Linked DNA regions of Homo sapiens: regions 1, 2 and 3 are each reported to be linked to region 4. Evidence: microRNA targets listed by miRTarBase, many of them from high-throughput screens and not tested one by one. Region 4 holds a microRNA gene; each other region holds the end of a gene's coding sequence.

What was found. The annotated mature microRNA hsa-miR-510-3p reads AUUGAAACCUCUAAGAGUGGA and lies in region 4 at 1,171-1,191, shown strand. An mRNA with a match to its seed (bases 2 to 7 or 8) in the 3' UTR can be bound and repressed. Matches are read on the target gene's strand: a 7mer-m8 pairs with bases 2 to 8, a 7mer-A1 pairs with bases 2 to 7 and ends in A, and an 8mer does both.
Region 1: miRTarBase lists UGT2B11 as a target of hsa-miR-510-3p. Seed matches in the 3' UTR shown: 7mer-A1 at 2,688-2,694.
Region 2: the mRNA of TBCA is a reported target of hsa-miR-510-3p. The part of its 3' UTR that is shown has no 7-base or 8-base seed match.
Region 3: miRTarBase lists MRPL18 as a target of hsa-miR-510-3p. Seed matches in the 3' UTR shown: 7mer-A1 at 2,447-2,453.

Annotation. Positions count from the first base shown.
Region 1 is chr4:69,197,618-69,200,777 of GRCh38, forward strand. It overlaps UGT2B11 (UDP glucuronosyltransferase family 2 member B11), which reads right to left. Exons shown (of 6, transcript NM_001073.3): 6 at 2,334-3,102. The coding sequence ends at 2,823. It overlaps LOC105377267 (a long non-coding RNA gene), which reads left to right. Exons shown (of 6, transcript NR_136191.1): 3 at 2,855-2,961. Among named protein-coding and RNA genes, the nearest start is that of UGT2B11, 16 kb to the right of the region's middle.
Region 2 is chr5:77,688,615-77,691,774 of GRCh38, reverse strand. TBCA (tubulin folding cofactor A) reads left to right here. Exons shown (of 4, transcript NM_004607.3): 4 at 277-609. The coding sequence ends at 357. Among named protein-coding and RNA genes, the nearest start is that of OTP, 51 kb to the right of the region's middle.
Region 3 is chr6:159,797,660-159,800,819 of GRCh38, reverse strand. MRPL18 (mitochondrial ribosomal protein L18) reads right to left here. Exons shown (of 4, transcript NM_014161.5): 4 at 2,391-2,768. The coding sequence ends at 2,697. It overlaps PNLDC1 (PARN like ribonuclease domain containing exonuclease 1), which reads right to left and starts at 544. Exons shown (of 19, transcript NM_001271862.2): 1 at 437-544; 2 at 1-48. The coding sequence starts at 512.
Region 4 is chrX:147,270,373-147,273,532 of GRCh38, reverse strand. It overlaps MIR510 (microRNA 510), which reads left to right and starts at 1,125; the gene lies at 1,125-1,198. It overlaps LOC105373347 (periphilin-1), which reads right to left. Exons shown (of 4, transcript XR_005647084.2): 4 at 1,638-2,650.

The DNA.
Region 1 (3,160 bases), not on the chromosome of region 4:
TGGAGTGGCATTATACCAATCTATTCAAACAGCTCATTTTGTCAATGATTAGCAAGTCAATTCCACCCAAATGTGGAATTCTCAACAAGACATTGATCAAAAATTAGCTAATCAAATTAATGATTTAAGACAGTCTGTTATTTGGCTTGGAAATCAGCTGATGAGTCTCGAACATCACATGCAAATGCAGTGTGATTTGAATACTTCTGATTTCTGTATCACACCATATTCCTACAATGAGACTGATCATTCATGGAAAATGGTCAAAGGACACCTTCTGGGTAGGGAAGATAATTTATTCTTGGACATAACTAAATTAAAGAAACAAATTTCTGAAGCCTCTCAAGCTCATTTACCCATTGTGTCTGGAGCTGAGGCGTTAGATCAGGTGGCAGAAAGTATTTCTGGACTAAACCCCACGACTTGGATTAAGTCTACTGGGGGCTCCACGGTAGTAAATTTTGGAATAATATTTCTCTGTTTAATCGACTTGTTTTTAGTGTGCTGGACCAGTCAAAGATTCCCGTGTCAAAACCTAGAGAACAAACAAGACTTTGCACCATGGCACATTTATATAAAAAGAAAGGGAGGGATGTTGTGGGAAGTCAGGGACCCTGAATGGAGGGACTGGCTGGAGCTGTGGCAGAGGAACATAAATTGTGAAGATTTCATTTTAATATGGACCTTTGTCAGTTCCCAAATAATACTTTTCTAATTTCTTATGCCTGTCTTACTTTAATCTCTTAATCCTGTTATCTTCATAACCTGAGGATGTATGTCACCTCAGGATCACTGTGATAATTGTGTTAACTGTACAAATTGCTTGTAAAACATGTGTGTTTGAACAATATGAAATCAGTGCACCTTGAAAAAGAACAGAATAACAGCAATTTTGAGGGAACAAGGGAAAACAACCGTAAGGTCTGACTCCCTGTGGGATCACACAAAAACAGCCGTATTTTCCTGCTTTCAGAGAGCCTATAAATGGACTTGCAAGTAGGGAAGATATCGCTAAATTCTTAGCCTAGCAAGAAATATTAATATTAGTACTCTGGGAAAGGAATGCATTCCTGGGGGGAGGTCTAAAACCAGCCACTCTGGGAATGTCTGTCTTATGTGGTTGAGATAAGGACTGAGGTATGCCCTGGTCTCCTGCAGTACCCTCAGGCTTATTAGGGTGGGGAAAATCTCCACCCTGGTAAATTTGTGGTCAGACCAGTTCTCTGCTCTCGAACCCTGTTTTCTGTTGTTTAAGATGTTTATCAATACATGCACCACTGAATATAGACCCTTATCAGTAGTTCTGCTTTGCCTTTTGTCCTGTTCCCTCAGAAGCATGTGATCTTTGTTCTGCCTTTTGCCCTTTGAAGCATGTGATCTTTGTACCTACTCCCTGTTCTTACACCCCCTCACCCCACCTTTTGAAACCCTTAATAGAAAACTTGCTAGTTTGAGGCTATGCTGGGCATCACGGTCCTAACAATAGGTGATGTCACCCCCGGTAGCCCAGCTGTAAAATTCCTCTCTTTATACTCTTTCTCTATTTCTCAGCTGGCCAACACTTATGGAAAATGGAAAGAACCTACATTGAAATATTGAACATGGGTTCCCCTGATACACACACACACACACACACACATATATATATACACATGCATATACATACTACGTATATATATACACCATGGAATACTACTAAGCTGTAAAAAGAAACAAACTAATGGCATTAACAGCAACTTGCATGAAGTGGGAGAGCATTATTCTAAGTGAAGAAATTCAGGAATAGAAAACTGAACATCATCAATTGTCACTTCTAAGTCAGATCTAAGCTATTAGGATGCAAAGGCATAAGGATGATGTAATGGGATCTAAGGATTCAGATGGGAGGCCGGGAGGGGGTGAGAGATACAAGACTATACATTCAGTGCAAGGTACACTTCTCACATGATATGTGCAACAAAACCTCAGAAATTACCACTAAAAAACGTACGCATCTAATCAAACACCACCTGTTCCCAAATAACTATTGAAGTAATTAAAAATATCAGAATAAAATCAACCAGACAAATATTTTTACATATCTGGAAAAAATAGAATTTGCTCATGAAACCAAAGATGTGGCAAAACAGTTCAATTTTACAGTAGGAAGCAGGTAAGAGTGGCTATATTTCTAATTCCACATAATTTCCACTGAGAAATGACATGAGCTCTTAAAACAGTAAACATTTGGCCATCAATTTTAGCAAAAAATGTGACAATGAAGCTGCATGCAGTGTAAAAGTAAAGGAATACTACTTATCTCAAAATATCAAAAGGAAGAGAGAGACTTTATATACAATTTAACTATGTAATAGTTTCTTTAGCAACAGTTAAAACAACAGAATCCTGTTCAAAATGAAGCCAAATTATTCTGAGGATGTGACTACTGATACTGTCAGTAGACTTCTTAATGTTCTTGTGTTTATGTAAAATGTGTGAAATATAGTTAAGCTGAGTAAATTTTTTCATGTAACTTGTGAATTCAAACAACAAATCTCAATATAAGTGCAACAAATTTCAATATGAGCTCAAATGGCTTTATATTATTTTTTAATTTTCCTAGTATTTTCTTCATTGCCACAAAATATTTCTAACCATTACCTGGGTGGTAAATCTCTGAAAAACAAATTTTTACTTGACAAGGTAGATTTGAAAATTTTTTTTTTTTTTTTTTTTTTGTCACAGGAAGAAAGAAATCTTGCATAACAATCTTTTCTTTCTTGCTGGAATAAACTGAAGTTGTCCTATCTATCTGGTTTTCCAGCTTCAAATGTCAGACATAACTAATCTCTTTTTCCCTTCTTCCCTTTTCTAGCAAACTTCCAGAAACAAAACAGACAAAACTTTGTGATGATAAATATCACAGTTGCCACACAGGCCAGCAGAAACCCAATCACATCCAAAGAGTGGTACTGGAACCAGGTGAGGTCATGGGCTGCAACTCGAAGGTGTTTGGCTCCTTTGTGGGGCATGACAAATTCAATCCAGAAGACTGCTCGATCCAGGGGCTTTACTGGTTGATCATGTTGAATTCTTGATAATTTCATAATATTCTCTTTATATCTGAAGGATAAAAATAAGGATACCAACACTGAAAGTAAGTTAATTTGCCTGTACATAT
Region 2 (3,160 bases), not on the chromosome of region 4:
ATTTAATTAATGCTGGTAGCTTTAGAAGACTGTTATTCACTTATTTTATGAGAATATATACAGTGAAACAAAACCACCAGTTATTTCTTCCTTTCCTTGTAAAGAAGGAACAGAATGTGGGAAACCTGTGGAATTACAATATATTTAGATGAGGCTTGGGATTTTTTACTTTTAATTTTTTAGTTATTAACATTAATGGTTTGTAATATTTGAGTAAATAACAAAGTACTGAAACTTGAAAAGGATAAACTTAATTTTTATTGTATTTCATTTTAGGAAAATGAAAAAGACTTGGAAGAAGCTGAGGAATATAAAGAAGCACGTTTAGTACTGGATTCAGTGAAGTTAGAAGCCTGAAACTTTTCTCGTATGGGGTGGTTTTTGCATTAAATCCTGGGGTCCATTTTACAATCCATTATTTTTGACCACTGCTATGTGTTCAAGTAGTATGAGAATGTGATTGTTTTTATCTGGTTACATATATATTTCTTTGTCTAATTTAATATGTCAAATAAATGAGTTCATCTAATAAAATTGTTTATTTTATACTTTACAAAATTTTTAAATTAACCTTTTATCATTAAACCACATAGACTTTATGACAGAGAACTATAATCTGTTAGGTTCTATTCGAAGTCTACATATTTTGCTTCACAAGCATGGATTGAGTTTTAAAAAATAGAATACCATTTTTTCAAATAACAATCCAAATTTTAGTTGGGTGTAGTGGTACATATCTGTATTCCCAACTACTGGGGAGGCTGAGGTGGGAGGATTGCTTGAGCCCAGTAGTATGAGGATGCAGTAAGGTATGATTATGCCAATGTACTCCAGCCTACGGAACATAGCAAGACCCTATCTCTAAAAGATTGAATTGTAAGCAGTTTATTTGGAATAGAATACAACTGATATAAAAGGAAGAACTCTCTTTGGGGAAGGTCTCACATAATAAGGCCTTCACAGTGAAACTCTAACATTTCCATGACTATAAATGAATGAGAAACATTTAAATCTTTTTCGAGGACAGATTCACACAGAAAACACCCCCAACCATTTAGATCTTCAAATAAGATTCTTATGAACAATGAAGAGTTGAATGGTATTTTGAAACAATAATGGCCATTGCCAGTGAAGTGCTGGCAAATATTTAAAGACTCTTCAGAATAGGAGGGGAACCTCTGATTGGTAGCTTTTGCTGATTTCTGTGGTATAAATACTCCTACCTTTGACCAATTTCAAACTACTAATATGACATCACTGAACACAGAGTTATGAAAATTTGGGCCAGCTCCACCATAATTTGGCTGTAGCCAATCTTGATTATCTAGATTGACTCGGGGGGGAAAAGTATCATTTTGTCAGAAAGCATTTTTCCAGTACAATTGTGACCCTGTTACCCAATCACTTGAGTTTATTTTCCAAAAATACAAGACAACTCATTTAGATTTTTTATATTTCCAGAAAATGTGTGTGAGCCTTATATCACCAGCCTAATGGGCATTGGTGTAAGGAACCAAATATCTATATATAGCATTTAAATTTGAAAAGTCAAAATTGGAAAAAAAAAACTTGAATTTTTGCTGCATTAAATACTTACAGTGTTATTATGGTTGGTATGATTTTGGAAGTTGTAGATAATCACTAGAAATCATAACATTTATTGAATCTGTCCAAAGATCAGAAAAGAGAAAAATAATTATTTTTTCCTAAGTTATTCTTAAAGGTTCTGTTGTTATAAAGCACAGATTATATCACTTATAAAATAAACTTAAGCCAGGCGCAGTGCTCACGCCTGTAATCTCAGCACTTTGGGAGGCCGAGGCAAGTGGATCACCTGAGGTCAGGAGTTTGAGACCAGCCTGACCAACATGGTGAAACCCTGTCTCTACTAAAAAATACAAAAATTTGCCGGCTTGGTGGCAGGCACCTGTAATCCCAGCTACTTGGGAGGCTGAGGCAGGAGAATTGCTTGAACCCAGGAGGCAGAGGTTGCAGTGAGCCAAGATCATGCCATTGCACTCCAGCTTGGGTGACAGAGCAAGACTCTATCTCAAAATAAAATAAAATAAAATAAAAATAACCTTATTACACATGCCAAAAATTACTTCTTCAGAGAATAACATATATCAGAAGCATTTCTAAATTGGAATGTCATCCCAAAACATATTACATGCCATTTTAAAAGTATTTGAGGTGGGAAAAGGAAAAGTTGAGAAAATAAAAAGTAATTATAGTGTAAAACTTGATATTAAGGTTTAGTGTTAGAGGTTTGAACACCAAGAGAATTAGATTATTTTGTGGTTGCTATCAAGTACCAGAGCAATAGATTGGCTTGGGAAGGGGTGGGTGGGTGGGGGCGGGTGCGGGGGAAGTGCCAATTAGTTTTCCAAGTAGTATTTCATTTACAGAAACTATTTTGGTATTTTTTTTAATGTATAACCTCTCTCTCTGTGTCTCTATATATAAATATATATATATAGCAAATGGTTTCTTGACCAATTAAAGCTTAAAGAGAACAGAACACAAATATATATAGATACAGATTCATATGTATAAGTCTTGCAGCAAGGACTCAAATCATGATTACTAAAAAAATTACTTTGTTGCCAAAAAGCCTAGAAAAGAAGAAATCAATAATAAGGTAAATGAAAGAATGCATATCTTTGTTGGCCAGGCGTGGTGGCTCACACCTGTAATCCTAGCACTTTGGGAGGCCAAGGCGGGTGGATCACCTGAGGTCAGGAGGATCACCAGCTGGCCAACATGGTGAAACCCTGTGTCTCCTAAAAATACAAAAATTAGCTGGGCATGGAGGCACATGCGTGTAATCCCAGCTACCCGGAGGCTGAGGCAGGAGAATCGCTGGAATCTGGGAGCAGAGGCTGCAGTGAGCCGAGATTGCACCACTGCACTGCCACCTGGGTGACAGAGCAAGATTTTGTCTCAAAAAAAAAAGAAAAAGAAATATATCTTTAGAGAATTCCTGTCTCAACTATAGATTTTATACTGGATCACTCTCCAAGTATTAATGAGAAGCACAAGAGGCTTAACATCCTGTGAAGACTATATTTCTGGGAATTTTTCATACATTCCACTTAGGTTTTCATGGCCATCAATAAGCATATTAAAATATGAGCAGCTGTAATCAATTCAGCATCTT
Region 3 (3,160 bases), not on the chromosome of region 4:
GGGGCCCAGACAGGTTAGAACGAAGGCCCGTGAACTCTATGTCCAGACCTGCCAGGAAGGCAAAAAATAGCAGTCCTCGGGTGCAGAACATCGCCAGCACTCCTCACACTGTAGATCTGCAGGCGGCCAAGGCACCCGCGCTCACCTCTGCGCTCAAGAAGCCAAGTGAGGTCAGGAAGGGAAAATGGAGGAACCAAGGCAAGGAGCAGCCAGGCACCTGGGCGCACGGGGCTCTGGCCAACAAGGGACGTGGGGCTCGGAGTGTACTTGCTGCTCAAAGTCCCACCGCCCCGGGGCTGGAGAAGGAAGCCCCCCTGTCCTTCCCGAGGCCCTCTCTGAGGCCCTGTGGCCTGGCAACCGTCCCGCCACCCCCTCCTCAAGCTCGCCCGGGGCAAGGGGCTCTGTCCGGCACAGCCGCGAATCCCAGGCTCTTCACCCACGAAGTCGGCCTCCTGGACGAGCTCCTGCAGCAGAGGGAGGCTCTCCTCGAACTCGTCGGCGCCCACGTCCATGGCCGTGCAGCTCCGCGGAGTCGCCCAGCGCTATCACGTGCTGCCCACGTGCTGCCCACGCGCTTCCGTCGCGCCGCCGGGTCTTAAAGGGCGCACACATGGAAACCAGGCAGCTGCCTCCGCCCCACGTGCCCAGCTTCCCCGTGTGCTGCTGGCGTCGCCCACACCTGCCTGCGGGTGTTTTAATTGTACGATTTGCTACAGAGGTTTGATTGCAATTGCAATCAAAGCCTGTTTACCTGGCTCCTCAGCAATTTCTTTGCAGCCCTTAACGTGAGAATGTCATTTACATGGACTTAGAATGTTAAGAGGCGTGGCAGGAGACGAAGACAGAGTCCAGAAAGGGTGAAATCAGAAAAGCGGAGCAGGAACAACACCGGACGCAACTGCAATAAGCAGATCCTTTGCTGCGGCTCACGGTCTTCTAAATCACCTCTTCCCAACTTCTCCATCACTGCCAGTATGTCTGTCCCCATTCCCTCTCCCACGCCCCTGGACATCTTTTTCCTCATTCTGCTGTCCACCTTACCACTGTCTTCACACCTGCAATCAAACTTTGCAAAGCCTCAAGAACTGCCCATTAAATTGAAGGAATCCTTGGTCCCCAGGGATTATCTCGTGCACTCACTCCTTGCGGAAATCCCTACCTACATCATCACATACATGTGAGCTTAATTTTTACTTTTGTTACTGTTTCCAGTGCAACTAGTCCATGGTCTTCCTTACAGTGTCCTCCCTTGAATTCTAGGCTTCTACTTGAACAGCGTTTTGGAACTATGGTCCTCAAAGTGAGGTGCTCAAATCAATCTTTAAGGTTAGCGGAGAAAACATTACCGTTATACTTTATTTTTTCCTTTTGAGACAGTCTCACTCTGTCACCCAGGCTGGAGTGCAGTGGTGCCATCTCGGCTCTCTGCAATCTCCACCTCCTGAGTTCAAGCGATTCTCCCGCCTCAGCCTCTGAACAGCTGGGATTACAGGCATGCACCACCACGCCCAACTCATTTTTGTTTTTAGTAGAGATAGGGTTAAACCGTATTGGCCAGGCTGGTCTCGAATTCCTGGCCTCAAGTGATCCACCTGCTTCAGCCTCCTAAAGTGGTGGGATTAGAGGTGTGAGGCACTGCATCCGATCTTCAATTATACTTTTAAATGCCTCTCCGGGACATTAATTAAGCAAAAGGGGACTATTAAGCCATTTGATTCTGAAGACCTCTCAGAACAAATCATACTTCATACAGATGTGTTCCATTTAAAATAACACATTGAATACTCAAATTGGCAGAAGTAACATATTTCACTTCTAAACAAACATTTAATTGGGGTATACATTAAAAAAACTGGAAAACAATGCTCTAGAAGCCACCTTAACTGCCTACAGGTTTTTTCTCACATTTATCAAATAGCCAAAAATTAACACCTTAATCAGCTCCTTTCAGAGAACTGCCATGATTCCCATCTACCCAAGCTCAAATTTTAGATTAACTTGCATGCATTTCAAGTTTCATCTCCTATCTAATAAAATGTTCACTTCATGGCAAATTGAGCGCCCACTAACCCCAACCATTTCCACCTCTGCTTTCAGCTCCTGATGCCACCTCCTTCCTCTTTCAAATTTGTTTCTCTTACTGTTGGGAACCAAGAGTCCAAGTGAGGTTGGCATTTGGTCCTTTCATTTTCACATACTGACTGTTCTATAGTATTAGATTGATACTGACATTTCCTATTTTAAAAAACAACCCACACTCCGAGCAGCAAACAACTGTCATTCACTGAGATCACTCGCCATGAACTAGACACAGTAATAAGTGCTTTACATCAACCTCATATGTGCTCCACTGCCACAGTGAGCTCAGACAATGTCATATAACCAGAAAATAAGAGTTCATAATATGCCTTTATTTTGTAATTTATAAACAACTTCTGACTTGCCCTTTGAAAGTTAATTATAATTGATGACTGCTTTTCTTAGATGCTTCTGAAGCCCAAGAGAGGGGCAGAACGTAGTTCTTGATTTAAAAAAACAGAAAGGGGAGGAGGATGACCTTAACTACAAATAATATTCCACTGCAACATTATTGCTGTAAAACTTCCAAGCTGGCTGTTCTTCCAGATGCTCTCTTTTGATGGCTGTAGTGGCTGACAGATTTATATTTACATGTTCAAAACAATTAATGCTTCCATTTATTCATAGATTCTCTGAGGTTCCCGTAGAACCACACCACCTTCTGTCATGGCACTTTGTAGTCGTTTCATCTGGTTTTGAAAATCAGAAAAAAAAGGAAAAGATTAAGTCAGCAGCACGAGTAGGCTGAAAATACTTTCACCTTCCAAAAGACAGAAATAAATTGATTTGTTCTTGCTAACTTCCCAGCCTACAACGGTTTTTCAGAAAGTGATCTTAATAATGATGTAAGTAAAAAGGAAATGTAGAGATGTCAAGGTTCAGCAGCATTTCAAAATATTATATGGACAAGATGTCAATATATGAACAGGAAATACAGTGGCTGACATCATGGACTACAGAATCAGTCACCCTGGGTTTGAAATCCACCATACACTGACTCTGGGCAAGTAAGCCTCAGTTTATTTCTGTATAGAATGAGAGTACTAGTCCCTACCCTATGGACTGATGTGAGGATTAAATG
Region 4 (3,160 bases):
TTCTAGTGTTCTGGTTTGCCTCACCCAAAGTGGAAGCTCCCCCTGATGATTAAGCTGAGATGAGGAGTATTACGTACTCAATTATCTCCGCCGGCTGCACCTGGTATAGAGCCTAAACCCTGTGATGAAGAATGGCTATAGTAGCAGGCCCCTGACCTCTAACCTCACATGCCTAGTATTTAGCCTCTGAAACACTAAACTGGGTTTGTGGAGTGGATGAGAAATTCTGGAGGCTTCTTAAACCCACAAGTATATTGTTGCTCTTGATTAGGAGATAGGGGAACAGGTAATTTTGTAAGCCACAGTCACTTTAAATTCTCAGTTCTCAGTCTCTGAAATCCAGTCACCAAAATTGTGTCCATATTTTTGTGTGTGCTAATTTTAGTTTTGCAGGGAAACACAGTCACCTAGTAGCATGTGTCTCAGATTGGAAAAATGCAAACACATGCTAAAAAGAACCTTGCTCCCAGAAAAGACGAAGAAAACCCAGAAACTGAAAAATCTCTAAGAGTGTCTGGGTGCCTAGCACAATTTCTGTTTTGTAGATCACTCCTGGTAAGTAAAATGGGATTTTTTTTTTCACTTCAAAATTTGATGAGGATAAAAGAAATTCTACTCTCTCCATCTTACCACTCACTGATTATTCTCTCTTCTTTGCTTCCAGGATCCTGTGTGATGTCCTTGCTTATTCTGTAGTGAGGAGTTGTAGTAAGGAACTCAGGTAGAAGAACTCAGATCTTTGGATGATAGGCACAGATTGGTGAGATAGAGTGTAGTGTCTGGGTAGCTACTGAATCTGGGGAATGCAATCTACTCATTAATACTTTATATAAAACAATGGGAAAAGAAATAGAATAAGGCATCGAATGAGATTTTTCCCGTTAGCAGGAGAGCCTAGCAGGAAGGTTCTTAGTCCTGAAAACTGCCATGTGAAAACTCCAAACCATGAGTGGACAACACTCAAGGGGGAATGAGTGAATAAAAAATGATGTAGGTTCTTCAGGAATCATTTACATAAATGCCAACGGCCACTTACAGACTGAAAACATTTGAGAGGTTGTTTGAAAAGTGTGTGATTAAGTATTTAGGCTGTGCTCCCATTTTCAGGAATGCTGTGTATGTGTGTGGTGTCCTACTCAGGAGAGTGGCAATCACATGTAATTAGGTGTGATTGAAACCTCTAAGAGTGGAGTAACACATGACATGTACTACATATGCAATGATATTGCAGATATTTAGTTGCATGCAGTGGTATGCTTTTCTTAGCACATAGATAGTCCATCTGGTACCCTCCTCAATACTAAACTAGCTGGGGAGTTTCTAGATAAACTTCTGAAGACAAGACATAGGAAATAAAGGTTTTGGGAAAAAGTGTTTCACTGATTTCTTAGGGGCTTCATATCCTTCTTTACAAACTTGCAAGACTAAAATGGGAAAAAAGCCTTTTAGTATGGTCATGGTGTTCCTATCTGCCTGTGAATTTTTTTTTTTTTTGATAACCCTTACCTGCGGGGTCCATCCCACAGACCCTGGCCAAGCAACGGATGAAAGGAGTACTCAGCCACAGGCATGCAGTGTAAGAGCAGCTACAGGAATGCCCAGCACTAATGGCTGAAGAGTGAGCAGTCTCGAACAGCTGGAGCTGCTTGCTTTTATTCAGTACAGACAAAATAATGAAAGCCTGGAGCCAACACAATCTGTGGGTAATTAACATTATTATTCCCCCTTTCAGGGAGCAGTCTCCTGCCCTGATGATCAAAGTCGGTTTCCGGACAATGTAAGTAAACAAGCCTGTTTATGCCAAATTCCCCTATACTTCCTTACCTACCCCTTGCCCTCTGCCTCAGGGTAAGAGAACAGCTGCCTTCAGCTTATTCATCCCTGAAGCTATCCAGAGCCTTCCCGCCTTTCAGAAGGTCTGTTCCTTTCCCTATACCTTCTCCTACCACTCTGACCGATCTCCCGCGTCTCCCCCTTTTCTGTTTTTAGCATCGGGTTTTGTTGATTGAATAGTACAGATGTGTGCAGTGACAGATTTGACAGGCGCAGCGGTTACAGCTCGTGTTCCGGCTTTGCATCCTAGAATTAGTAAATAACATAAGTCAAACATTAGTATAGTCACTATTATTCTTTTCCAATCAAGGAGAGATATGTAGTGTTACTTGGCACCTCAGTTCAATGTGTGCCATTATTAAGGAACCCCACTGGGGGCATGTCAACCCCTCCCAGCTAAGCAGTTACATTATTAGAGGATGGGAAGGGGGTGTCTGCCAAGGTAACAGGTTGGAAGAAAGGCAGATCTTAGAAGATGGGCCCAATAGAATGTAGCAGGTATGAGTTGCAGGCAAAGTGAGAGAATAAGAAAGGTGAATACCCTATGAGAGTTGCAAGGTACAATAGAGAGCATAGCAAGGAACAGATTATCTGGAGTGATGGTGTCTGTGTCCAGAGAAGGATTCACTCGGCCTCCTGAGTTGTCTTCTTCAGCTTCCCCCAGGTAATGTCTGGGGCCTGTGTCATCGGAGGAAGCCACATCGTCTGGGGCTGCGGGTCCTGCAGCGTCGTTTCCTTTATTTTTGATACCAGCTTGGGTCTTAGCCACGCCATGGTATGGTTTGATGTGTCTGTCACACTGGAATACAAAGAGGACCTGAGGGCGTGTGAACACAAGCATATTCTCTTCCCCAGGTCAGCAAATCATTTGGACCACACCATAGATTACTATTAACTTCTTTCCATAAAACCATGGGTTTTATGTCTTGAGGGGCTTTTGCAAAATGCTTTTCTATGGCTGATTGAAATTTATCTAAATTAAAAAAATTAAGGGTAAATAAGGCTTATGCTAGTAGTGTTGCAGCATCCTTACTCATATTCCCCCTTGTTTTCTGAGCATATTTTTAAGGGTGGAATGGGCATGTTCTACTATGACTTGTCCTTGGGATTTGTACGGGATGCCTGTGGATGTCACATATTGGACATCCATGTGTGACAAAATTGGTGAAATTGTGAGCTGGTGTAAGCTGGACCATTAGTAGTTTTAATTTTTGTGGGCCGCCCCATAAACGCAAAACTTAAGAGAATATGTTTAATGACATACTGGGCAAACTCTCCGGGAAGAGCATGAGTGCTAATTAGGTGGGAATTGGTATCAATGGATATA